Regions from separate parts of the Homo sapiens genome. Here region 1 is linked to region 2. The links come from fine-mapping of genetic effects on gene expression. A gene starts in region 2. The other region holds a variant in brackets. All regions are shown on one strand. Distances are between the middles of the regions. Region 1 overlaps MICALL2 (MICAL like 2). Region 2 holds the start of MICALL2 (MICAL like 2).

What was found.
Region 1: its variant is fine-mapped to the expression of MICALL2 in esophagus mucosa (GTEx, PIP above 0.99).

What each region holds. Positions count from the first base shown.
Region 1 is chr7:1,420,874-1,436,503 of GRCh38, forward strand. It overlaps MICALL2 (MICAL like 2), which reads right to left. Exons shown (of 17, transcript NM_182924.4): 16 at 14,228-14,274; 17 at 13,486-13,799. The coding sequence ends at 13,723. Among named protein-coding and RNA genes, the nearest start is that of MICALL2, 31 kb to the right of the region's middle. RefSeq lists a silencer at 2,240-2,534 and an enhancer at 7,670-8,225. The variant T/C (reference allele first, on the strand shown) is at 9,234.
Region 2 is chr7:1,452,910-1,464,420 of GRCh38, forward strand. It overlaps MICALL2 (MICAL like 2), which reads right to left and starts at 6,561. Exons shown (of 17, transcript NM_182924.4): 1 at 6,275-6,561. The coding sequence starts at 6,417. MICALL2-DT (MICALL2 divergent transcript) reads left to right here and starts at 7,010. Exons shown (of 2, transcript XR_001745046.2): 1 at 7,010-7,358; 2 at 10,933-11,511. RefSeq lists silencers at 1,604-1,898, 6,334-7,053 and enhancers at 4,515-5,237, 5,238-5,960, 7,384-7,935, 7,936-8,487, 8,024-8,318.

The DNA of each region.
Region 1 (15,630 bases), 30 kb before region 2:
AAAAAAAAAAAAAAAAAACCAAAAACCCGTTCATGAACACACGTGCTTGCATGAACACCCACGTATAATCATGAGTGTGCACACACTCCAGGGTTGGGGGTAACCCAGGCCCTGAGCCTAGCCTCCTTGGCTTAGTATGCACATGTGTGTGATGTGACTGATACGTAACACGCATCCCATGGGCGTCCCGTGCCAGGAATTGAGGGGGCCACACCCTACTCAACGCGGGGGACAGTCTCCGGGCTCCGTGGCTCACGGATGGTGGAGCGTGTCATTTCCCGCATGTGACACAGAGTGCGGACTGTGCAGAAGGCGGCTCTGTGCCTCGGAAGGCAGGGTGCAGAGGCGTGCAGCGCTCACCACGGGGATGCGGCCGGCTCCTGGGACGGGACCTGGAACGCGGATGTGGCCGGATGTTTAGTGGGTGCCGTGCACGGTGTCTGACACATCAGATGTGATGTATACCTCGCACGAAAGACGTTGTGTTCATCAACAAATCAATTCAGTGACACTTTGCTGAGCACCTGCTATGTGCCAGGCCCCGGGTATACAGCGGCGAGTGGACAGATCAAGTCCCTGCCCTCGTCGGGGGTGGTCAGGGAGACCCACTGAAGACTTGGGGAGGTCGGGGCGACCACTCCAGGACAGAATGTTGTGGACAGCAGGGCCATCAGGCAGTGTGCCCGGGTTGTCCGAAACCTGCAGAGGCCAGTGCTGCCAGAGTAAGCAAACGGCAGGGTGTCCCGAGGGCCAGGGGGCAGATGGCAGGCCTTAAAGCCACACAGGTGCCCCATGCCCTGACACAGCCCTGGCCTCTGGGTGACAAGCACCTGAGGGGCTGTCTGTGGTCCCAGGACATGGGAGGCCAGGCTGCTAGAGTCTGAGGACCGGCGGGGTCCTGGGTGCCCTGGTGCCCCTGCACAAGGCTGGTTCCCCATCTTTGGAGGTTTGCTAACTGCCCCCCATACCACAAGACTGGCTGGCCCCGCAGAGGGATGGCAGTGGCACGGAGTGAGACCTGAGGGGGTGGCCAACAGTCTTCAGCATCTGTGCAGCCCAACTCCCATTGTACCAAAGGGAGACTGAGGCTTGAAGAGGATGAGGCCTGGCCCAGACCCTTCAGAAATGGGACAAGCTGCTGGGACGAGCTCTTGGGTCCTCAGTCTCCCTGGCCAGGTGTGCACAGGTAAATAGGCAGGTGTGTGGCTCAGTTGGAGGGCAGGTGTCCCCGGGCTCGGCCAGAGCATTTGGGTGGCAAAAGCTTGGCCAAAGCCACAGCTCCCAGCCAGTCCCCGCTGAAGGCCCCGTGAGGCCAGCTGGGCCGGCCACCCAGGCTCCCAGAAAGGGAAACTGAGGCTCAGAGAGGGCCGCCCCTCGCCTAAGGTGCTCCAGTGCAACTGAGTCAGACTGGGTCCTCAATCTTCCCACCCTGTCCCCCCACCCCAGCCTCTGTGACAGAAAGAGACCAGGGCCCTGGCCAGGGGCCGAATCCCACCCCAGCCTCACTCTGCCCCAACCCCCCAAGGAACAATTTACCTTTCGGAGCTGGTCCAAGATATTAATTAAGATAAATCTACCTCAATTTTGAGATTCTCTTATCATGTAATTTATCAAAATTATGTTAATTATTTCTGTAGGGCAGCAAAATTATTACCTCTTTTGTGTCTGATTTGTATTAATATTCATAATTTAATAATTCAGCATCTTGGCCATCTGGTCCGGGAACAGGCTCCCTTCCCTCCCTCAGTCTGAGCCAAAGCTTCCCCATCACCCCCGCCGGTGTCCCCAGGGCCCCACCCGCCCTGTCCCCGGTGTCTTCCCTCCGTCCAGCCCTGCAGACGCTGCCCCCTGCCCCCTGCCCCCTGCCCCAGCCCTGATGGCCCCGCCGGCCCCGAGGCACAAACAGGTACTCGCACAGGTACATGCACGCCCTCGCCACCCCCGCTTGGCAGGTGAGCCAAGCTGAATTGACATTTTCCACACTTTGTGAGTTTTACACTGTAATTTGACATAATTAATGCCTACATTACTGCTGATAATTTAGCTAGTTAATTAAACTCGGAGGAGATAATTAAGGAAAGGCTACTGCTTGGATTGCTAATTGTTTTTGTCATTATTTCAGGGGGCCGACAGCTGCTGGCTGAGTCATCCTGTTTTGTCAGCTGATGGGTCATGTGACACAGGGGTCCCCCAGGGGCCCCCCACTTCCAGGGGAGGGAGGAGCGCAGCTGGCTACCTGGCTGCTGCCTGGAGCCTCGCCAAGCGCTGCTGGCTGCTCTGGTCTGGCCTCACCCGCTCCAAGCAACGACAGCTTCCCACGGTCCCTGGGGCCTTCTGAGCCCGGCTGAGAGCTCTGGCCGGAGGCACACCCAGGTCAGCCTAAGCCAAGGAGAAGGGGGCACCCCCAGCCCCTGCATCCAACCCTAAGACACGAAGTGGCACCTGGCGGCATCTCAGCCTTCTGCAGTGGTCAGATAAGAAGCAGAACTTTCTGAGCCTGCTGGAAGCAGAATGGATGAGCCCACATTGCAGAGAATGACAGGGAAACTGTGGGAGTAACAGAGAGGGAGAGAAAAGGGGGAGTGGGGAGAGGAAGAGAGAGGGGGGAGAGAGAGAAACAGACTGAGAGAGAGGGAGAGAGAGACAGAGAGGGAGAGAGGGAGAGGGAGAGAGAGACAGAGAGAGGGGGAGAGGGAGAGACAGACAGGGAGAGACAGAGACAGAGAGATGGAGGGAGAGACAGGGAGGGAGCGACAGAGGGACGGAGAGATGGAGGGAGAGAGAGACAGAGAGGGAGAGACAGAGACAGAGACACAGAGGGAGAGACAGAGAGAGGGACGGAGAGACAGAGACAGAGTCAGAGACAGAAGGGGAGGGAGAGACAGAGACAGAGAGGGAGGGAGAGACAGAGACAGAGGCAGAGACAGAAAGGGAGGGAAAGACAGAGAGGGAGGGAGAGAGGGAGACAGAGAGAGGGAGGGAGAGAGGGAGACAGATGGAGGGAGAGACAGAGAGGGAGGGAGAGAGGGAGACAGACAGAGGGAGGGAGAGACAGAGACAGAGAGGGAGGGAGAGACAGACTGAGCTGGGAGTGAGGGGGAAGAGGCGGCAGGAGCAGCACGTGGAGAAGCTGTCAAGCTCACCTTCCCCAGCCCCATCCCGCCCACCCTCCTGGGGACTGGTTGACTCAAGGTCAGAAGAAGGGGCTACGCCTGGGGAGGCGTGTCATTGTCACTGTTGTCCTCACTTCCATGGAAAACGGGGTCTTGCAAAGGTCCCACAACAGGGAGGTGGCCCCAGACCCAGTGCAGGCCTGGGGAGGGCCATGGCGCAGGAGGCTGGCCCAGTGGCTCTGCCCTGGTCGGGGATGGGATGGCAACTCTGCTTCCTGGGCCTCAGCATCCCCACTGACTTCAAGAGAGTGGACGGGGCTGGACAACCCCCAGGCCCCAGCGCAGACGGTGTGGGGAATTGAAGGACATCCCGTCGGCGTGACATCAATGGAAACCAATAGGGTGTTGACTTGGCTCTCAGGAAATTCAAGTCAAAGAGGCTTACACGACCCTGGATTCATTATCCTTCCCAACAAGAAATCTACACATAAGAAGGTTCTAGACTGGCTAATTCAGGGCTCAGTGACACCAACAGGAGGTCAGCAAAGACCCAGCAGCCTTCCCTGTTTCTGCCCAGCTCGTCTCTGCTTGGCGGCCTTACCATCCCTCATGGTCCCAAACTGGCTGCTGTGGCACCGTGAGTCCTGTGTACCACCACAGCACCCCAAATACCAGATGGCATCCAGCAAAGTTGGGGGCTGTGTCTGCCACATAATCATACTATGTTCTTAATGGGAGGTTTCCAGCGGACTTAGAATCCCAAGACTTTCTTCTGCTGAACCCTTGATTTTCTTTCCTCTGCTGGTACCAGCTGTAGCTTGGACCACAACAACTGCCTTTCTCACCACAGCAAAGCACTGCCTCATGGAACCCTTAATCAGTAGATTCTGACTTCAGAAAGAAGGGTTCCCTTAGCAAATCCCTAATTCCTGCCTTGAGCTTTCAGATTGGCTACCTTCAACCTAAACTCAACCCTCTCTCTTTTTTTTTGAGATGGAGTCTCACTGTGTCGCCCAGGCTGGAGTGCAGTGGCACGATCGTGACTGACTGCAGCCTCAAACTCCCAGGCTCTAGCAATCCTCCCCCCTCAGCTTCCTGAGTAGCTGAGACTACAAGTGCATGCCACCATGCCTGGCTAATTTTATTTTATTTTATTTATTTTATTTTTTTTTTTTTTTGACACAGAGTCTTGTTCTGTCACCCAGGCTGGAGTGCAGTGGCCTGATCTCGGCTCACTGCCATTTCCGCCTCCCGGGTTCAAGCGATTTTCCCAGCTCGGTCTCCAAATAGCTGGGATTACAGGTGTGTGCCAGCATGCTTCGCTAATTTTTGTATTGGTAGTTGAGACAGGGTTTCTCCATGTTGGTCGCAAACTCTCGACCTCAGGTGATCCACCTGCCTCGGCCTCCCAAAGTGCTGAGATTACAGGCGTGAGCCACCACACTTGGCCTAATTTTTAAAAATTTTTGTAGAAATGGGGTCTCACTATGTTGCCCAGACTCATCTCAAACTCCTGGGCTCAAGCGATCCTCCTACCTTGGCCTCCCAGAGTGCTGGAATGGCAGGCATGAGCTTCCGCACCTGGCCTCCTGCCCACATCTTGATCTCAGACTCTGGCCTCTAGAAGTCTAACTGTTCCTTGAAGCCCCCCATTTTCGGTACTTTGTCACTGCAGCCAGACATCACTCATGCATCCCCAATATCCATTCCCCACCTCCCCTTTTAGCGGCCACAGCAAGCCCCAGAGGGAACTACATTCCCCAGCATCCCTTGCAGCCTGCCCTGGCCATGTGACTATATTCTGGCCAATGAGGATAGAGCAGGCCACACCTGGTGGGCCCTGGATGTCAGCGAGGGGGTTATATGTCCTTGGTTTCTGCCCCCTGGACCTCACACCCACAGCCAGAGCTGGCGTCGAAGACCACCCTGGTCCCATGTCTCTCCACCTAACGCCCTCCGGGCCCCACCCCACCATCCTGCCCCTCTGACCTCTCCCAGCCTTTCCACTCGGACGGAGTCCATGCCTGGCCAGAACTTGCAACTCTCCCTGGCCTCAGGGCCCCTGCCTGGCTCAGCCGCAGCCCTCCCACCAGGCTGCCTCTCCCTCCCCTCAGCACCCTCCCCAGGGCCCCACGTCCCTGCAGAGCCCCGGCCCCCAGGACTGCCATTCTCTTTATGCCTCCACCAGGTCCTCGAGGACAGGAGCTGGTGGGTCTCTTGCTGGTGTGGGGCTGTGGTACCAGCGGGTGGCCTGGCATGGAGGAGATGCTCAATTAAAAGAACGGAACAAAGGGTCCGGATGTGGTGGCTCACACCTGTAATGCCAGCACTTAGGGAAGCTGAGGCCAGTGGATCACCTGAGGTCAGGAGTTCGAGACCAGCCTGACCAACATGGCAAAACCCCATCTCTACTAAAAATACAAAAATTAGTTGGGCATGGTGGTGCACGCCTGTAATCCCAGCTACTCCGGAGGCTGAGGCAGGAGAATCGCTTGAACTCGGGAGGCGAAGGCTGCAGTGAACCAAGATCGTGCCATTGCACTCCAGCCTGGGTGACAGAGCGAGACTCCATCTCAGGAACAAAAAGGATGGAATGAAGGACGAAAGGATGAACAAACATTTCCGGGAGAGCGCTGACAGCGGCCGAGGCTGCCCACCTGGACCTTCAATGATGTGGCCGTGGGCGGCGTCCACGGGACAGAATCTCCCCGTGACTAGCACCCACTAGTTTCATCCCATGGGGGTGTGTGTGGGCCTGGGTTGATGGGGTCCTGGGGGGACAGGGTCCTGCTGTGAAGCTGGACTTAGCCTAGAGTGTAACAGGAAACCCCAGAGGGCTTCTGCAGGGGCCACCAAAACACTGAGCTCACTTGGGGAGGGTGGGGAGACACGGAGAGTCCTGGAGTCAGGGGCTGGTGGAGGGGAACGCTCAGACCCAGGAAATCGTGTGGGAGAAAACGGACAGGATGTGGACGAGGGAGGGGCTACCATGATGGTGGACACCCCAAAAATGGTGAGCAGGATCTCAGGAGACCCTGCAATGTGCCAGAACACCCCCGTCCACAGAAATGGAACCCGAGCCACAATGAATGGGCCACACCTGCCATTTTCAATTTTCTAGTAGCTGCGTTTAAAAAAAGTAAAAAGAACGAAGCGAGAGCCAGGCACGGTGACTCATGCTTGCAGCCTCAGCTACCTGGGAGGCTGAGGCAGGAGGATCACTTGAGCCCAGGAGTTTGAGATCAGCCTGGGCAACATAGCAAGACCCCAGTTCTACAAAAAAATGCCTGTAATCCCAGAATTTGGGAGGCTGAAGCAGGAAGATCGCTTGTGTCCAGCAGGTCAAGACCAGCCCGGGCAACAGAGTGAGACCCCATCTCTACAAGAAGTTAAAAAATTAGCCAGGCGTGGTGATGCACGCCTAGAGTCCCAGCCACTTCGGAGGCTGAGGTGGGAGGATCGCTTGTGTCCAGCAGGTCAAGGCTGCAGTGAGCTATGATCACACCACTGGACTCCAGCCTGGGCAACAGAGCAAGACCCTGTCCCAAAAATAAATAAATAAATACATTTTTATAATTGCTAGCCTGATGGCTTCTTTTCATCTTAGAGACCGCGAAACCCCCAACAGCTGCTCTCGGCTACCAGGGAAAGGGCCTTGTTGAAGTGCAAAACTGAAGCAGAAAGTCTTTGCTTCCACGCCCGCCCCTGCAGGCCGAGTCCCTGTCCTCTGGGCCTCCAGGCCACTTAGTGTTAGACCCAGCCTCCGTCCCGCTGGCCCCAAGGGTGGCTTTCTGGGACTGTGTCCCCGGGCCTGCCTCTTCTGCTCTCCTCGGCTTTCAATTTGCTGTGACTTGTGTGACTGCATCCTTCTCCCTCTTAAATATTTAAGGTGGCCGGGCGCAGTGGCTCACACCTGTCATCCCAACATTTTGGGAGGCCAAGGCGGGCGGATCACCTGAGGTCAGGAGTTCAAGACCAGCCTGGCCAACATGGTGAAAGTCTTGTCTCTACTAAAAATACAAAAATTAGCCAGGTGTGGTGGCGCATACCTCTAATCCCAGCTACTCGGGAGGCTGAGGCAGGAGAATCACTTGAACCTGGGAGGCGGAGGTTGCAGTGAGCCGATTGTGCCACTGTACTCCAGCCTGGGCGACAGAGCGAGACTGTCTCTCTCTCTCTCTCTCTCTATATATATATATATATAATATTTAAGGTGGCAATTCTTAAAATGGGAACATGCATCTGCTGAAATCCCTCCGCCGTCCCTGGTATATCCTCGGACCTTGATCCCAGCCACCGCCTGTGTGCAGATGAGGCCAAGTCCATCTTGCCAGGCACTGACCCCGGGCCTGCTGCTCCTGCTCACAAAACCAATCGCCCCTTTTCTGGAAAGTTCTCCCCCGTAAGTCGAGACTAGAAATGGCCCATATGGAAATATAATGTTGTTAAAACCACTGATTAAGTTTTACACAACTGTGTGAGAGCAAACGAAAAGGTTTTAGCTTTTTAATTTAAGAAAAGAGGAATGTGATATAATTTCAATTTGTGATAAGATGAGATGTTCTCGATATTGCAGTTTCAATTGGATTATATCCTAACGTGCTTTATAAAGTGTCAGGCCGGCTGCCGACGAAGGGGTGTGTGTGATTATCTTTATTAATAATCCGGTGGGCTGGTGTTTTTTCTATCCGTCTTCATCAGTGTTTCCAGCCCACCTGGGAGACCTCGTTAGCGCAGAATCCAAAACCGTGACCTGAGACGGCAGGGCTGTGATCGTCACGGCAGGCCGGCCCGGGGGGAAACACCTAGGTGGACCGACAGACAGACAGATGGGGTGTCAGGACCCATCACAGCCAGCCAGACAAAGGCCTCTGCCGGGAGGGTCCCCGGGGAGCAGGGCCCTGGGAGTCCAAGCTCCAGACCAGTAGGAGCCAGGGCAGCTTCAGGGTGAGGGAGGTTCACCCAGCAGGAGGCCCGCAGACAGGAGCAGGGCCCGGACGTATGATCTGGCTGTGCCCCTCCTGGCGGGGTCTGCAGGGCCGAGGGGGCCACCCAGAGCTCATGTCCACCTCCCACCTGATGCCCCAGCACCCGGGACCCCAGAATTCCCTGAGCGCACACCCTGAAACCCCCTTCGAGTCCTCCTGAGGCCTTCCCAGCCCTGGCGTGGAGGCTCCCAGGCCCGAGGTGGGAGGCTCCTCCCTCCCAAAGCTAAACAGGGCTTCCGGGGAGGAGAAGTGGGGGGAGCTTCGGGCTCAACTCTCTCCCGGGCCCCACAAAGGTGAGGGTGGGCCTGGCAGGGAATGGCCGCTGGGGAGCAAGCCTGCATGGCAGCCGTCAGCCTCCTGCGTCTCAGGCTCCAGAGGAGACCCCTTCAGCCCCCCTGCGTCTTGGGCTCCAGAGGAGGCCCCTTCTCCATGATTCACCCGAGAGAAGCAAGGCATGGCTGTCCCTGGGGTCCCCGTGAGGCCTTGGAAGGACGTGGAGGGGCAGGAAGAAGCCAGAAGACACAGGAAAAGCTCCTCCTTCCCAGACACCCTCACAGCGGCCGCTCGAGGTTGGAAGGAGGCCAGGCTGCAGAGGTGCAGGCCACAGACATTTCTACCTGGGGGTAACTGTGGGCTTCCCAGAGCCCCCCCACCCAGGGAGCCCCCCAACTGGGGCCGTGCAGCAGAGCCACATGGGGGGCCCTCACTGGGAGGAGTCTGAGCTCTGCTCCCTGCCTCCTCCCAGATGGAGGCCAAGGCACAAGAACCAGGCCCTGCCCACTCCTGCCATGGGGCCCTGGGCACTCCGTGACTCAGTTTCCCCTCCTGTCACAGGGACAGGGTGTTGCCCACGACTCCCTAGTTTCTGTGAGGGGCTTCATGGCACAGGGCGTGGCCATGCCCCCATCGGAGACCCCTCCAACTCTTGCCCCAGCCAGGAGCAGCCCCTCTGTCCCCACCCCAAGCTGGGCCCACCTTGGCAGGCTCAGGGACTGGGAAGGTCCCTCCCCTCTCTGGCCTCAACACCCTCCTCTGAAAACGGGTCTGGGGGTAGCTGAGGTGCTGTGGGAAGGGCCAAGCCAGTTCCTGTGCATCGGGGCGGGGCTGGAGCAGGAGGCCTGGGCAGGGCAGA[T/C]GGGGCGGCAGGGGTGAGGGGGCCCCACCATGGAAGCGGCTGAGGTCTGCTCTGCATGTCAATTCCCCGCTCCCTGCGGGGCAGACCAGCTATGACATTCCCAGGCCCCGGCCGGGACCCGCAGCTTACACAGATCAGGGTGGGGGGCGGTCTTTGGGCCCGGCCGGGCTGTGCTCATCACTCGGGGCCAGGGCCAGGCTCCCTCTCTGGGCCCCAGGGAACAGGGCAGCCCCCCGTTGTGGGATGCCCGGAAAATCCCCCAAGAGACGTTGTGCTCTCTTCCCGAGTCCCTCCCTGTCCCTCCCCTGCTCAGCCCAAGTCTGGGTAGGGCAGGAGGTGCCTGGTGTGTGCCCGCTGGCAGTGGCTCCACTGCCCACCCCACGAGACCTGATTCAATCCTCCCACCCCGGGCAGGGCAGGGGCAGCCCCGGGGGTCCCACAAGTACGAAACCAGTCAGGCTCAAGCAGGTCTGTCTCCCTGGACCAGTGGACCAGGTAGCAACCCTGGGCCAGGTGCTAGCCCCCTTGACAGGTGAGAAGACTGAGTCCTGGAGTGGCGTTGAGCCCTGGTGTCATTCATTCATTCAACAAATCCTCATCAGGCTCCTGCCGTGTGTCAGGCACTGTTCTAGGCGCTGAGGATGGCGTGGCAGAAAGACGGAGGAGCCGGGACCTCCGGAGGATCCGTCACAGAGAGGAAGCCCAAACAAGCATCTAAACATAGGTGCGTTCCGAGTGTTGGCAATAAACCAGGGTGGCCGTGTGCTCACGCCTGTCATCCCAGCAGTTTGGGAGGCCAAGGCAGGAGGATTGCTTGAGGCCAGGAGTTCAACACCAGCCTGGGCAACATGGCAAAACCGTGTCTCCACAAAAAAAAACTTTAAAAATTAGCCGGGCGTGGTGGCGTGCGCCGGGTGTCCCAGCTACTCGGGAGGCTGAAGTGGGAGGATCACTTGAGCCCAGGAGGTCAAGGCTGCAGGGAGCCGTGATCACGCCACTGCACCCCAGTCTGGGCAACAGAGTGAGACCCTGTCTCTAAAAAGAAAGAAAGAAATCAGGGTGAGGGGCAGGAGCTTCTCCGAAAAGGGCAGTTAAGCAGAGATAGCAGGATGCCAGCTATGTGGAGTGCAGGGGCCCCAGGAGCAGGACCAGCAAATGCAAACGCCCGTGGCCAAGGCCCGGCAGCCGGAGCGGAGGGGGCAAGGGTGACAGAGGTGAGGCTGGAAGAACTCCTGGGAATCAGCCCAAGCCTGCCCTGGCTTCGCAAGGGGTGAACACAAGTCCCCACCAGCTGCCCCCACCCTCCCACAGACCAGTGCCCTGTAATGGCTGGGCTGGCCCCCTGTGCCCGGCCTGGAGGGGCCACTCAAGTCCAAGTCCAAATTCCAAGCATCCCAGTGGAGACTCTGCTTGGTCCAGCCTTGCCTCCCTCCTTGTCCCTCCTGACGCAGCCACACGGGGCCAGTGTCAGCTCCCCACCCCAGAGCTCACCAGAAGGACCACACCGGTCCCTGAGCCCAGAACACTCCTCAATCCAGCCCTTGCTCCCCAGACCTGAGGCTGTAGTATTGAGGCCAGTGCAGATACAGGGGCCGACGGGGATGTGGGTCAGGGAACAGCTCTTCCCCTTCTCTGCGGCCCCACCCACCCCCATATCCATTCAGGAAGACTGGCTGTTCCTAGCCATGTCTGTAGAGAGAAAGCCTCTGATGTGCATGGACTGCCTGCCACGTGCACAGGCACGAGACGCTGGCCCGGAGTCTCTGGCAGGTGTGGGTGACGTCCAGCCAGGCCACTGGGGAACTGCGTGCCTCTGCCCTCCCTGAAAGTTGTGAGGGGTCATCTAGGGTGGGTGGGGCCCGGGCTGAAACTCTTCCACATTGGGGTTGGGGCAGCCTCTGCAGGAGCCGGGCGGCGGCGCAGCCAGCCCCACCTGTGCCCGAGTGGCTGCTCAGGGGTTCCCACGCCCATCCTCACAGCCTCCTGCAGCACAGGCAGCACAGGCATCACAGGGCCTGGCCAACGCCCATGGCCCCAGGGCTGCGTTCCTGCCTGTCTCTCCATGATGGTGTCACCGGGGTCTGCAGGTGCTGGGCCCCTGGTGGACAGCAAGGACATCCCGCAGGGCTGGCTTAGTGCCTGGCAGACCTGACCACTTGTTGCAGGGGCTCTGATCACTGAGCACCAACTGTGTGCCCAGCCTGGAGCGCACCTGGCACCCCAGGGCTGCTTCTGAGGTCCCCAGATGCAGGGGGCTGATGGTGGGGGCGGAAGCTTCCTGGCCCTGCGGTGGGACACCCCCAGGTGTGAGTCCACAGCAGGACCGAGCCCCAGGTGCCCACGCCCCTAACTTGCTGGACAACACTCCCTTCCCGTTCTGGTCTCAAAAATGCTACGCAGCCCCCTGCCCTGGCCCCGCCTCGCTTGCTGTGTGACGTGGGAGAGCCGTAGCCCTCTCCCAGCCTCAGTTTCCCTGTCTGAAAAACGGAGCTATTCCAGGCTCCCGGCTGCCCCTCTCCACTAAGTGGCTCTCTGCCTCCCCCTGGTGGTGAAGAGGCCACACTGCCGCGGGTCAGGCCTTACGACGTGAGCACGGGGCTGAGATCCCAGGGGGACCCACGGGGCTGAGATCCCAGGGGGACCCACAGGCTCAGCTCCGGGACCCGGTCCAGACCGCCCTCCACGGCGTCATGCTCCTAACACAGCAGAGGCCCTGGGGCTTCTGCTCAGAACCACCCCAGGCACCCAGTGCCTGAGGAACGAGGCCACCTCGCTGCACCTGGAAGGTCCCTGCCGGCCCAGGTCCTGACAGAGCCCCTCTCTCTCCATCACCCGCTCCGCCTCACCTGACCCTGACCCCGGCCCCGCCCCAACCTGCCCCACCACACATCTTCAAGCTCCCAAGATCACTGCCTATGCTGTTCCTGCAATAGGGCACACCCTGCCCATCCACCGAGAGACCCCTACTCCTCGACACCCAGGTGAGACCCCCCCCTGCAGAAGTCTCCTGGGGGCTCCAGGGTCCCACTGCTGCCAGCCACTGCCTCCCAGTCCTCGGAGGGCACAGGGAGTTTCCACCAACACACTCGGTCCCAGTGGCCTGACTCCAAGAGAGGCCTCAGGGCCAGGCAAAGCACGACCCCGTTCCCCACTCATTGCTGTGTGCAGGTGACCCATGGCCTCATCTGGGGGAGCCCCTTTCCCTCCACGGGGGCCCCGAGTGGCTGGCAGAAGCAGGGGGTACAGAGGGAGGCAGCGGGGGTCTCGCTGTCAGCAGAGGGCAAGAGAGCACCTCCGTGCTCCTCCACCCTCATCACTGCCCGAGGCACACCGGTGGGCCCCTCTCATCCTCACACGGCCCCCAGGCAGCCTATGTCACCAAAGGCTCAGAAAGGGCAGTGCCCTAGCCCGAGGCCAAAGAGCTGCCAGGAGCAGAGCTGTGACTGCAGAGGCTGTGCTCCATCCGTGCACCCCAGCCCACCCTCTCTTCCATGCCCCACACCCAGCTCACGTTCCAGGAGTCTTGAGACCCTCAAAGGCACAGTGAAGGCCATGGAATGCCACAGGCCTGCCCAGCACAAGCTCCCCAGGGCCCACGCGCACACGGCAGGGGCTCCAGGCTCTGAACCTGCTCTGGCCCTGCTGGGACCCGTGGGGTCCCGACCCCCCCAGCCAGCAGGTGGAGAACACTGGTGCTTTGCCATGGCTGAGGGTTCCCCAGGACCGCCGCAGAGGCTCCTACAGCAGCTGAAACAGCGCAGCAACAAGCAGCTGAGGCCCGCCCCTCCCCGCACAGATGGGCAAACTGAGGCTTACAGGGACGCTGCACTCCTGACTCAGCGCTCCTCCCACGACATCCACTCTCAGTGGGGGTCAGAAAGGATGGGGCACCCCACATCCCGCCCTGGCCACCAGGAAGTCTCCCTGACCAGGGGCCACTGCTTACAATCCCCCATCCCAGCCCCAGTCCTGGGAGAACGAGGTCACAGCTCTCAGGCCACGGATACATGGCGACCCAGCACCCAAAGTCTCCAGCCTGTACCGACGTCTCCTCTGAGGCTCCCACCAGCCCATCTGTGCCAGGAAGCTATGAAAGGGCCCACCTTCGAGGGCCAGGCCCTGAGAGGGTCGGCTCCTGCCCGAGGCCACAGAGCACGTCCGTCCTGCAGGCAAGAGCTGGGAGGCAGGCGAGACCCCAGGCAGGTGCGGGGCCGCCCAGGGGCACCGAGGCAAACACGGAGGCACGTAGGAGTCCGGGGCCATGTGGTCGGTTTCTTTATTGAGACCACAGACGGTAGCGCAGGTCCCTGCTGTCCACATGCCCCTTGTAGGGACAGGAGGCCCTTCCCGAGTCCAAGTCCGAATGCCGGGTCCGGGCCGAGCCCACGGCCCCGAGTACAAGTCCGGGTTCCGGGTCCGGGCCAAGCCCATGGCCCCGAGTCCAAGTCCGGATGCCAGGTCCGGGCCGAGCCCACGGCCCTACTGGCTACTACTGGGAGGGGCTGCTTTTGCTTTTTGGTGACCAGATCTTGGACAAGCGGAACTTGGACTTCTTCCTCTGGAGGCCTAGGGGACAGGTGGACAGTGAGGCCGTGCTCAACGCCGCAGCCGCACAGCCGTGGCCCACACAAGTCCCCCTGCCAGAAACATCCTTCCCTTCCACTGGCCACAATCCGCCCTGGGCCTCCGAGCCTGCAGGAAGCCCTGTGCCCTCCCACGTGAGAACCTGCCCCGACTGGGTGCCCCGGAGGGCTGGTCCCCACCATGACCACACGGTCACCAGCTGCCCCTGGCTCTCTTAGGGGCGGGAGGGAGCTCTCACCCTCAGGGTGAACCTGCCTGTCCTGTCACCAAGGCTGAGGGGGGGACCCGATACCCGCCCCCCCCCCACCCCCAGCTGGAGGCCCGGTCCACCCAGCCAGCCAGCCCAGCACTCAGCATCCCCGGCCCACCCAGCCAGCCAGCCCAGCCCTCAGCATCCCCGGCCCAGTCACCCAGCTTCTCAATCATGTCCCGCAGCATCTGATCCTCCTCTTGTTCCCTGAAACGGGACCAGATGGCCATGAGCGACAATGGCAATGGCAAGGTGCCCTGGAGGGGCCTCCGGACAGTCTCCAGCAGTGGCACCCCAGCCCTGAGTCCCGCCTGGACCCATGCCACCTGCCCCTTCCTGCTGACAGGCCACACCTTGGAACCCTGCCCCCACCAATGCCAAGTCCCTGCCCTCTTCCAGAGCCAGCCCCTCAACAGTGACATGGTACAGGAGGGCCCTGGGCCGACCACACAGGTGACCTGGGACAGAAGGGCCTGGGCCGACCACACCAGTGACCTGGACAGGAGGACCTGGACAGGAGGGCCTGGGCCGACCACACCGGTGACCTGGGACAGGAGGGCCTGGGCCGACCACACAGGTGATGTGGGACAGGAGGGCCTGGGCCGACCACACCAGTGACCTGGGACAGAAGGGCCTCGGCCGACCCATGCCAAGGCCCCGTCACGCTCCCAGAGGGTCTCATAGAGGTGGACTTCAGGTGCCGACCCAGAATGCCATGTGCTGGACCCCTCATGAGACGAGACAGGAAAGCTGTCGGGGACAGTCACACAGTCCGTGCAGGAGCCAGGAGACGCACGTGGCCTTGGAAGTTCAAGTTAAAAACTAAGACTTTGGCCGGGCACGGTGGCTCACACCTGTAATCCCAGCACTTTGGGAGGCTGAGGCGGGCGGATCACGAGGTCAGATCGAGACCATCCTGGCTAACATGGGGAAACCCCGTCTCTACTAAAAATCTAAAAAAATTAGCCGGGTGTGGTGGCGGGCGCCTGTAGTCCCAGCTACTTGGGAAGCTGAGGCAGGAGAATGGCATGAACCCTGGAGGCAGAGCTTGCAGTGAGCCGAGATTGCGGCCACTGCACTCCAGCCTGGGCGACAGAGCAAGACTCTGTCTCAAAAAAAAAAATACAAACAACAAAACAAAACAAACAAAAAAAACTAAGACTTTACGGCCAGTTACGGTGGCTCATGCCTGTAATTCCAGCACTTTGGGAGGCCAAGGAGGGCAGATCACCTGAGGTCAGGAGTTCAAGACCAGCCTAGCCAACATGGTGAAACCCCGTCTCTACCAAAAATACAAAAAATTAGCCGGGCATGGTGGTGCGAGCTTGCTACTCAGGAGGCTGAGGCAGGAGAATCGCTTGAACTCGGCAGACGGAGGTTGCAGTGAGCCAAGATCGCACCACTACACTCCAGCCTGGGCAACAGGAGGGAAACTTCGTCTCAAAAAAAACAAAAACAAAAAATTAGCCGGGTGTGGTAGTGTGCGCCTGTAATCCCAGCTACTCGAGAAGCTGAGGCAAGAGAATCATTTGAACCTGGAAGGGACAGGTTGCAGTGAGCCAA
Region 2 (11,511 bases):
CCCTCCAGCCTCCAGACCATGGCTCCACTCTCCCGGCACAGAACAGCTTTTCCCACACTCCGCCCGATGCACCCGCCAGGCCCTCCCCAGATGCACCTTGCTGTCCCCGAGCTCACACCCCCGGGGCCCCTGAGCAGCTGAGCTCAGGGGCCCGATGCTGGCAGAAATCGCCGCCAGAACCGTCTCGCAAGCCCCACCAACATCGCCAGGTGGAGACCCCACTCGTGTCTCCAGGAGCCCCCCAAGAAAATGACACATTGGAGCCCTAACCTCCAATTCCACCACGTGACCTTATTTGGAGACAGGGTCTTTCTGGAGGTGAGAATTCATTTTGCCTCCTTTGGAGATAAGAGAATTCAAACAGGGTTCTTTGCGGGGAGCCCTGGTCCCATGGCTGGTGTCCTCATAAAAGGGAAATGTGGATGCAGATACAAACTGACAGGGGAAGAGGATGTGAAGGCACAGGGCGAAGACGGCCACCCCAGAGCCAAGGAGAGAGGCCGGGAAGATCCTCCCTCCTGCCCCCAGGAGGGCCCAGCCCTGCTCACACCTCCGTCCGGGACGTTGGCCTGCAGAACTGCGGGAGGACACTTTCCGTTGTTGAAACCGCCCGTTTGGGGGACCTTGCAAGGGCAGCTTGAGCAGGTGGACACCCCTGTCCTTGCCGGACAAAAATGCATCAGCTTCCCCCCACTCAGCAAGTGACCAGCTACCCATGGTGAGACGGCTGGAACTGGGACACAGCCCCAGCCACCGCTGCAAACCTGCAGGCTGTGGGATGGGGGCTGCAGGTTGCCCACCTCCGAGACATGGCATCCTCCAGGGTTTAATCTTCTCTTATTTGAAGCCTCAGAATTAAAATCAGGTATACCATGGCCCGGCTCCAAGACACACACCGTGGGCCAGGCACACAGTCGGTGCCCTATAAATGCGTGTGATGCATTTGTTCTGTGCTTGGTGAGATTTCTGTGGCAGTAACTTATTCTTTCAACACTGGCTGAAGGAATGAATTTGCCGTCTGTGTGTCGGTCACAAGATTTGCCCTGGCCAACTCTCCACCGTGCGTGCCCCTGCCCGGCCACACCTGCCCCCACCACCCCTCTAACTGACCCACGACCATCAACTTCAGCCCATGGAGTCCAGCCGGCCTCTGCCCCGGCGCCTCTGGGGGCTCTTGGGAATGTATACCCCCCTCCAAATTCCTGGGTGGCCGACATCACACTGTTTACTTCCTGGAACAAGATTCCGCCATGGAGTGGGGAGGGCGGGGGGGTGCAGGACTTGGAAGGGAAGGAGCCCCAGCCGAGGCACATCCAGCACATCAGGAGAGAATCCCACGGAGAAGGGAGCAGAGGGAGTGGGGAGAGGCAGGTGGACGGACAGAGAGAGCTGGAGAGAGAGAGGAAGACCCCAGCGGAGATGGTGGAGGGAGGCCCAAGAGAGACAGGGACCAGATGGCACAGTCGGGATGGCAGAGAGGGGACTCGGGGAAGGAGCAAACCTCAGAGACAGCGAGGACATGGCCAGGCAGAGCTCAGGAGAGGAGGGGGTGGGCAGGGGGCGGTGACGACTGGGGAGGGGAGGCCGCAGAGCCCCCACCTTGCACACTGGGCCTCTGGAAGGAAAGTGTGGGGCCCTGGGCAGTCCCCCTGCAGTAGGTGGACAGGCAGCCCCCTCCCGCGCCCGTCCTGGAGGGTTCCGGCCAGAGGCGGCCACAGAGGTCTGGCTACAGGCCCTGGGGCAGGAACAGAAGGCCTCTGTCCACAAGCAGCTTCCTGCTGACCCAACCCCGCGTGGGAGAGGAGGTCAGCCCACCCTCGGCCCTGGCCCAGGAAGTGAGGGCACTGCCTGGGAGCTTCTGGGTGGGGGCCTCTGCGTGAGTCTCTCCCCTGGCCCCCAACAATAGTGGTGTCTCGGGGAGCCCCGCCACCCTTGGGAGCCACTGCTGGAGGGCTCCATGCACTGCACAGCGGCCGCCCCAGCCACCCCCACTTCCTGGCCCAGCCCTGAGCCCGCCTCCAGAGCTGCAGGGACCAGGAAAACTTAAGGGACCCTGCCTTGGAACTGAGGGTGCAGCAGAGACCCAACTTCACGACACCCTCCCAAGGCCTGGCCACAAATCCGACAAATGCCCCCAGCCACGAACCCCAAGAAGGAGGCCGCAATGTTCTCCCACCTGCTGGACGGCTTCCTGCGCCACGCACAACGCCTGCCCTCCCTCCAGCCCTGCTCCCTCCCAGCCCAGACACGCTGTGCCCCCTGCCCCATCTGCCCGAGGGCTGTGCCTGGAGACCTGCTTGGGCCCAGGAATGAAAGGAGCCAGCCCATGGCAGAGCTGCTCCAGCCCCGACAGGCTGACTGGCTGAGGGAGGTGAGGCGGGAGGTGGGGCTGTTTGTTCTGGGTGGTTTCTGAGCTCACCTGGCTGCCCAGCTGCCCTGTGACACCAGTATGGAAACAGCGCCCGGGGGCAGGCGCCCTGAGGCCTGGCTGCAGAGAACCCACAGCCGCAGGTGAGACAGGGCAGGCGGGCACAGGCAGGCTGACCAGGCAGGGGACCCGCCCACCCTGCCACCTCCTGGTGGGCGTGGCTGGGCGATCCTGTTTCCTGGCCGTAAAGCGGAGATTCACGGACACCTCTCTGTACCTGTGGGGCTCCCCAGTGTGGTCACACGTGGCTCAAGGAGCCGGAACATGGTACACAGGAATGTCCGGATCCCCGCCCCCTCCACCCGGGGTCGGTGGGGCAGAGGCAGAACCAGGAGCCCGGGTGCCCCACCTGGCTGGCCTGGCGCCCGAGCTGGTTCCTTCACAGCTGCTCTCCCTGAGGGCCAAGCGGAAGTGCTCTCTGCGTGCAGCAGGAAGGACTAAGGCCAGACAAAGGGAAGGACTTCCTGGTGGCAGAGCTACAGACAGGGAGACAGGACGTCCACCCTTCTGCTGTCAAGGGGTCTTCACTGGAAGGAGAGGGGAATGAGGTGGCAAGGGCGGGGCCTCACACAGAGTCTGACCTCAGAGCTGCCCTGAGAGGACAACCGGTCTGTGCCTGTCCCTCACACGCGTTTCCTCCCTTCCTGAAGACTACTGGGGACAGGAGGGACAGCCAAGGGCTGCATGAGGAGACCTCCACCCCAGCCACCACCTCATCCAGAGGTACGGCAGGGAGCAGAGGCTGAGGGCACGGGATGGGGGTGATGAAGGCACAGAGGCAGGCACGTCCAAAGAGCCAGGGGCCAGGCGCGGCGGCTCACATCTGTAATCCCAGCGCTTCGGGAGGCTGAGGCAGGAGGATTACTTGAGGCCAGGAGTTCAAGACCAGCCTGGGCAATATAGCCAGAACCCATCTCAATTTAAAAAAGAAACAATATGCTGAGTGAAAGTAGCCAGACACAGGCCAGACGCAGTGGCTCGCGCCCATAACCCCAGAACTTTGGGAGGCTGAAGAGGGCAGATGGATCACTTGAGGTCAGGAGTTACACACCAGCCTGGCCAACATGGCAAAACCCCGTCTCTAGAAAAAATATGAAAATCGGCTGGGTGTGGGGGTGCACCCCTTTAACCCCAGCTACTTGGGAGGCTGAGGCAGGAGGATCACTTGAACCTGGGAGGCGGAGGTTGCAGTGAGCTGAGATCGCACCACTGCACTCCAGCCTGGGCGACAGAGCTAGACTCTGTCTCAAATAAATAAATAAATAAATAAATAGATAAAATTAAATTAAAAATAAGAAAATTAGCCAGGCATGGTCCCAGCTACTCGGGAGGTTGAGGTGGGAGGATTGCTTGAGTCCAGGTGTTCAAGAATGCAGTGAGCTAAGACGGTGCCACTGCACTCCAGCCTGGGCGACAGAGCGAGACTCCAACTCTGGAATAAAAGCAAAGGGCCCAGGCACCCATACAAGCGCATGTCCCCACACCCTGGTGCACACCCGACCCCCATGACACTCCGGGTTTTCCATCAGCCAGGGTCTACAGAGGCCCCCACGCCCCAACACCCATGGAAGCCTGTACTAGCTTCTTCCTACTGCCGTAACAAATTGCCACAAACTCTGGGGCTTAAAACACCAGGAATTTGTTTTCTCACGGCTCTGGAGGCCGGACTCCGACATCAAGGTGTGGGCTGGGCCTTGCTGCCTAAGGAGGTTCTCGGGGAGGGTCCTTCCTGCCTCTTCCAGCCCAGGACACCCTTGGCTTGTGGCTGCACCTCTCTGATCTCTGCCTCCAAGGGCACATGGCCTTCTCCTCTGTCCTTCTGCACGTGGGCACCTACTAAGCTCCTACCATATCTACTGAACCCCAACTGAAAGGCCCTTATCTGCAGAACTCCAACCATGTGCTGGTATCTACCGAGCCCAGTTCCAGGCACCAGGGGTGCAGCAGTGAACAAAACAGAGCCCCCACCCTCTGGAGCTGACAGTCCAGTGGGGACAGAACCAAGTCAGCCACAGCTTGGGTAACTCCACACCCACCGGAGCTGGGGGCAGAGGGCCTCCTCTCTCTCCCGCCTCCTTCCTGTTCTGGCCTCTGCACTCTCTGGAGCCACCCTGGGCTTTTATTCATTTACCTGTTCCCTGTCTGTCTCTGTGACCGGAACATTGCTCCCTGCATCTGGAGGCTGAGGGGAACTGGCACAGGACTCAGTGCTGGGTACACAGCAGGTACTCAATAACTGTCAGTGCACTGAGGAGATACACAGCGACCACCGTGCCAGTGCATGCACATGCACCTGTGCTCACCCTGGGCACTGCCCACAGGCACGTCTGAGCCGGCAGGGAGTACAGAGAAGCTCCCCAGGACCAGAGGGCCCCAAATCTCCGGCGACACCAGTGATCCATGAAGCTGGTGGCCAGCAGCCGGTGGCAACGCCTCTCCCCACCCCAGAGGCTTTTCGGGCTGGCCCCAGCTTGGATGCCTGGGCTCAGCCACCAGCCAGCCTCATCCAGGACCCTGCAGCCCCGGGGGTGGGGTCTCGCCTGCCTTCCTCCCCATTCCGGGTCCTTCTCCCAGTCTCCAGGTCCCTGGCCCTCTCCTTCAAAGCTCAGCGTCAGGCTTTCCATGTGGAAGCACGCACCTTGTGCCCAGCATCTTCTGCCTGCAAGGGCAACAGAGGCACGTTCCTGGCGAGGGAGAGCGGCTGCTGCCCAAACGCCAAATGGAAGCCCCTGGTGGCTCCACGAATGCATGTCACAACCTCAGAGCAGGGGCCGAGGCTGTTGCTCAAGACCCCAGCTTCCTGCAGAGAGTGGGACTGGCAGGACAGTGTCCAGGGGCACAGGGGAGGAGCCCCGGATCTGCGCAACGGGCTGGGGCTGTGTGACCTGAGCAAGGACCCCTCCTCTTAGCCTCGGTTCTCTGGTCTGCACAGCTGCGGCCTGACAGAGGCCCCAGGTGCTGCCTGTGGCTCCTCCCAACCCCGAGACCTTCCCACCAAAAACACACTCAGGAGAACGCTTTGCCCAGAAGGTGCCTGGGCTGCAGGTGGCCGTTGAGGGCCCCCCTTCCTGAGCGTCTGGCCCCCAGCCCCGACACACAGATCTCTGTCCCAGCAAGCCTGGTCCCAGTCATTTAGCCAAAGAGCGTTTGCTGAGTGAATAAACAATGGAGCAGGTCCAGGCTCGGGCCAAGATTCAGCAACGGGCAGGGCCAGCTGCCCAGCTACACACGCCAAGACCCTCCTGGGGAGAGACAGCCTAGTCCTCAACCCCTGCCACCTCCTGCTGCTCCCAGAGATGGGGGCTGTTCTCCATCTCGGGCCCTATCACCCGGGGCCTCAGAGGCCCGGCTGGCAGCAGCACCTGGGGTCTGGGGGCTTCCTGCCCTGCACTGGCCGCTCCCCCACAGTGGCCCTGGCCACATCCCCCCAGGGGCCTGAACAGGCTGGGGGAGGGTCAGTGCCCATACGAGGGCTATCCAGGGACCCCATCTGGTGGCCAGGCCCCTGGGCAGTGAGAGCCTCGGAGGGCCCAAAGAGGCAGCTCTGCTGGCCTTTCCCAGGGACACAGAGGGGGACTGGACTGAAGCCAGGGCCCAGGAGCCGCCCTGAGTCACGTCTGACTCAGCCGGCGGGCGGGGGATGCCATGGCTCTGGCCCAGCTGCATTCGGTGTCCGGGCACACTGAGGCCACTGAGGACAGCCTCGGGGGGCTGCACGGTGGGCTGTGCCTGCCCAGTCCCACGCCTCGGCTCCCCATCCCCCAGCCGCCCGGGCCTCAGTTTCCCCGCCCGTGTCAGCGCGCAGCCGAACAGCAGAAGAATCAAAGGGCGCCAGGCAGGACTTACATGAGGTCGGGCCGGTGGCGGTGCAGGATGGCGCAGAAAGCCAGGCCGTCGCGGAACGACGTGGTCATGTTGCAGATATTCACGTCGCGGTAGCCCTCGCACTGCTGCCGGCACCACTGTTGCAGCGCCCTGATGGCCGCCATGTGGGCGGCGCGCCCGCCGCGCGGCGGAACCGCCCTCCGACACCTTCCCGCGGCTGTGCCGCGACCGCCCGGCCGGCGGGACAGACGCTGGGACCGCTACGGAACCGCCAGACCCACGGCGCCCAGCCCCAGCTGAGCCGGACTGAGGGCGACGAGTGCCGGGTCCCTAAGAGAAGCCGAGCCCGGCCCCGCCCCCGCCGGCCCCGCCTCCTTGTAGGCCCCGCCCCCAGCCGCCAAGTCCTGCCTCCGGATAGGCCCCGTCCTCACACCTCCCAGCCCCGGCATAGGCTCCCGCCCAGGCAGGCCCCACCTCCCGACAGGCCCCGCCCCCAGCCGCCGGGTCCTGCCTCCTGATAGGCCCCGTTCCCACGCCTCCTGGCCCCGGCACAGGCTCCCGCTCCAGGCAGGCCCCGACTCCGGACAGGCCCCGCCCCCAGCCTCCAGGTTTTGCCTCCCGAGAGGCCCCGCCCCACGCCGCCCGGCCCCAGTACGGGCTCGCGCCCTAGGCACGTCCCGCCTCCTGGTAAGTCCCGCCCCCACGCTGTCAGGTCCCGCCCGACAGGCCCCGCCCCACGCCGCCTGGCCCCTCCCCAGGCCCCGCCCCGCCGCTGAGGGCCGAGACCCCCAACCGGTGAAGGGGCGCGGTCTGCTTGGGGGTCCTGCCATTCTGGACCCCTGCGGAGACCTGGAATTTTCTTTTTCGCCGCCCCACCTCCCACCACCATCTCACCCCACCGCCATGGAGAAGAGGCAGGAAAGGCCGTTGACAAACGGGGACACTGAGGCTCGAACACCCTGCCCTGTCTAGGGCCTCAGCCCTCGGCAGCCCGGCCTCCCGGGGAGCAGGAGGCGCCTTGTGTTTCAGGGTTTCAAAGGACGTCCGCATCTGGTTTCTCTTTCCAGGCCGCTACATGCCAGCGGGGGTTCCAGGCAAGGCAGAGGTGAGGCCTGGGCATTGCCAGAGGAGAAACTGAGGCCAGGAAGGGGGCCGTGGAGCCGGAGTTGCACAGCTGGCCTGTGCTTTTCTTCTGGGGGCCTGTGGGCAGGATCTGTTCCTGGGGCAGGAGATTCCTCAGGCTGACTTGCAGGGTAGTTCCAATTTTCCACTTTGAGCTGTGACAGAAGAAATAAGGAAAGTCCCTCTGCTGGGGCCCTAAATTATCCCAGACTGGCCCCTGGCCCCGTTATCCTTGGGGAACCTTGTCTGTGGCCACGGGGGCTGGACGAGGGCGGAATCACTGACACCAGCCATGTGAGGGGGGCCTACCCTCCTGGCTGTGGGGCCAGGGCTTGTCTGGGCAGGGCCTGCAGGAAGGAAGGTGTTTTCCCGCAGTAGCCCCTGGCAGGGAGTCAGGGCAGCTTCTCTGTGCCCCTTGGGAGGAGGAGAAACTGAGGTCTTCCAACCCCAGCCAATGGTGCTGTTCCAGATCTTTTCTGAGGCTGGTCCCTGGTGAGACACCGTAGTGTTCATGGCCAGCTGCCTAAGTGTCAGTGAGGCCTGTGTGTAGGTGGTGAGCTCCCCGTCACCAGGGGCATGCAAGCAGCTGCTAGGCAGGGAGCCCTTGTGGCCTGGGAATGTGGCTGGCCCTAACCGCTGCTCCGCCACAGTCCCTGACCTGCGGATGTCAGGGGATATCGTGCCAGCACAGCCGGAGCCGGTCCTGGCACCGGGTTTTCTTGACTCCCAGGGCAACGGTTAGGAGAACCGGAAGAGCTGGAAAAGAAGGGAGAGATCAAGAAGCAGAAGCAGCGGGGCAGTGGGCGGGGGGAATTAGTGGGGGATGGGGGACACAGGGGTGGACAGGCGTTAGGGCCCAGCTCCCTTAAAAGGAGTGGTGTGGGAGGTGGCCTGGGTTTCACTTTTATCGTGAACTTTTACCACTGCACACTTAAAAAGCCATCTCACTGGTCACCCCGTGGCCCATCCTGCGCGGCCCCCCTCTGGCACCAGTGAGCTGGGAGGCAGCATTTGTGACGTTTGCCCACCAGCACCTCACACACCATGTCCCTCCAGGGTCCCCGAAGCCAGGAGCCAGGACACCCCCAAACAAATGGTCCTTTCTCCCCACTGCCCACGGCTGCCACCCTCCCATCCAGACGACCTGTCCCCCCGCCTCTGCCCACAGGGCTGCCTCCTGCCCCTCCAGCCACCACAGTCCACCCTCCCCAGCAGCCCGAGGGATCTTTCTAGAAGGCCTGACCAAGCCCTTCCCCTGCCGGGAGCCTCCCAGGCTGTCCTTCGAATAAAGTCCAGGTTGCTTATCAGACTTTCCGCAGGCTTATCACGCTGCATCTCCCCGGCCGCACCCTGCCACGCTGACCCCAGAGCTTTGCGCCCGCACCGGCCCCCAGCACCCGCCCCTCCTCCTCATCCTCCAAGACCCCCACCCTGAAGCCCCTTGGAGCCACCGAAGGCTCCCAGGGTCCCCATCTGTGCTCCCCAGGGCTGCCATGTGGACTCTGCACACGCCTCCCCCGTCCAACACAGAGCCTCCACCCGGGGAACCCGCTGCCTTCTGGCCTCACTGGGAAACTGCCTTCTCTCGGGCTCAGTTTCCTCATCTGCAAAGTGACATCATGGTCCCCTTCCACCAAGGGCTACCCCACGGCCAGGCACGCAGTAAATGCAGCATGATGTACCCACCCAGGCACGCAATAAATGCAGCATGATGTACCCAGGGGTGGGGAACAGGTAAGAGCGGTGTGAGCTCAACAGGCCCCAGGATGGGGACTCAGATGGGGGCCCAGACTTCAGGCCCTTTAGAAATGATGATGACCTCAGCCTGGGACTAACAGAGAGAGAGAAAAAGGGGAGAAAGAGACAGAGAGAGAAAGAGAGGGGAGAAAGAAAGAGGAGAAGAGAGGGAGACAGAAGATAGAGCAAGAACCTCCCTAGGAAGGACCACGAGAACTGAGACCTGGAGGCTAAGCTAAGTAGGAATCACTTTGTTGGAGAGGAAGGGGAAAGGGCAAAGGGAACAGGAGTTGTAAAGGCCCTGCGGCAGGAAGGAAGACTCGAAGATAGGCTGGTGTCGCTGGTGCAGGGGACTGGGAGGAGGTGCAGGGGCTGCGGGAGGAAGGGGTGCAGGCAGCAGGGCCCGGCTAGGCCCCTACTCCAACTTCTCCCACCAATTTCCATGCCTACATTGTCATTTGATACTTACAGCCACCCTTTAAAAGTGGCTCTGGGCCAGGGGTGGTGGCTCATGCCTGTAATTCCAGCATTTTGGGAGGCTGAGTTGAGACGATCACCCAAGGTCAGGAGTTTGAGACCGGCCTGGCCAACATGGTGAAACCCCGTCTCTACTAAAAATACCAAATTAGCCGGGCATGGTGGCACATGCCTGTAGTCCCAGCTACCTGCAAGGCTGAGGCAGGAGAATCGCTTGAATCCGGGAGGTGGAGGTTGCAGTGAGCTGAGATCACACCACTACACTCCAGCCTGGGTGACACAGCAAGACTCTCCCCACCCTGCCGCTCGCCACCCAAAAAAAAAGTGGCTCTGGGCCAGGTGTTGTGGCTCATGCTTGTAGTCCCAGCTACTCAGGAGGCTGAGGCGGGAGATCACATGAGAACAGAAGGCTGCAGTGAGCTGTGATCACACCAGTGCACTCCAGACTGGGTGACAGAGACATTAATGTGTGTGTGTGTACACATACATATATGGGTGTGGGTTGGCTGTGGGTTTAAAACCCAAGATTGGCTGGGTGCAGGGGATCATGCCAGTCATCCCAACACTTTGGGAGGCTGAAGTGGGAGGTTTGCTTGAGGCTAGGAGTTCAAGACCAGCCTGGAAAACATAGCAAGACCCCACCTCTACAAAAAATACAAAAATGTTAGTCGAGTGTGGTGGTGTACACCTGTACTCCCACCTATCCAGGAGGCTGAGGCAGGAGGATTGATGGAGGCTGAGAGGTCGAGCCTGCAATGAGCTGTGATCATGTCACTGCACGCCAGCCCGGGTGACAAAACAAGACCCTGTTTATGATCTACAAAATAAATGGCTCTATTGATTCTGCACCTCAAAAAACTGAGGTTCTGAGAGGAAAGGAGGAGACTGGAGGGAGGGGAGGAGACAGGAGGGGAGGAGGGAGGGGAGAAGGCCCCCCGTTTCAGCCTGCCCTCTCAGGCAGCGGCCCTGACTCTGACACCAGGTGAGGCCCGGGAGAAGGTCGGCCCAGCTGGTGTCCTACCCAAGTGTACACCCTGGTCCAGGACAGGACTTCCAGGCCAGATGACCTGTTTCCCCACTTCCAGCCTCCACGTGTTCTGAACCCCTCAAAGATGATGGAGGCAGGGAGAAAGGGGTCTCTCAGCCCATCAGGGTGGCAGGGCCCGTGCTGGGGACCCAGGGAGGACATGGCCTGAGGCATCGCTCATTTCAGTCCAAAACATCCACCTTGGCTTGCATTAGCTTAGCTCCTGGGTCCCCAAGAGGCGCTGCAGAGGTGGGGACCCAGGTGCCACACCCGGAGGGGTGGGGCAGGCTTATGAGGGGTTGACTCCTTCCACCAGTGGATTCAACCCTGAACGTCACCTGACCAAGGCTGCTGGGCCAAGCTGGAACAGAATCGGATCCTTGAGTCTGGGAGGCGGAGGCGGTTCGGGAATGCAGAGGGCGTGAGAGAGAACCAAGGGAGGTGTCCTGGCCGAGTGGTGTTTCCCGCGGGACTTCTCAGAGCCTTCATCACCTGATACGCACCTCCACTCTTCCAGGGAGAGGACACACTGCACAGTGGTTCCCAAACTGACTTGCCCACAGGACCCCTGTGGACGGTTGTGGGGCACCACGTCAGCCCCCCTGCAGAGCGTGGAAGGGACGTTGCCCTCCCCACCCCCAAGGCTGCCATCAACCAATGCCATCCCTACTGCCCCCGGCAGGACAGGGAGCTGGAAGCTGTGACACCCCATTTTAAGGGGCCACCCATTAATTAATTAGGCTCCATGAATAATGCATGCCACCTTGGGTATATTAATAGCATATTTATATGGTGTGCTATGGGGAGTATACATTCTCGTCTGAACACCTCACAAATAATTCACGACACCGCTCCTTCCCCAGCCTCCAGGAGATCCTGGCCGGTGCTGCGGCTG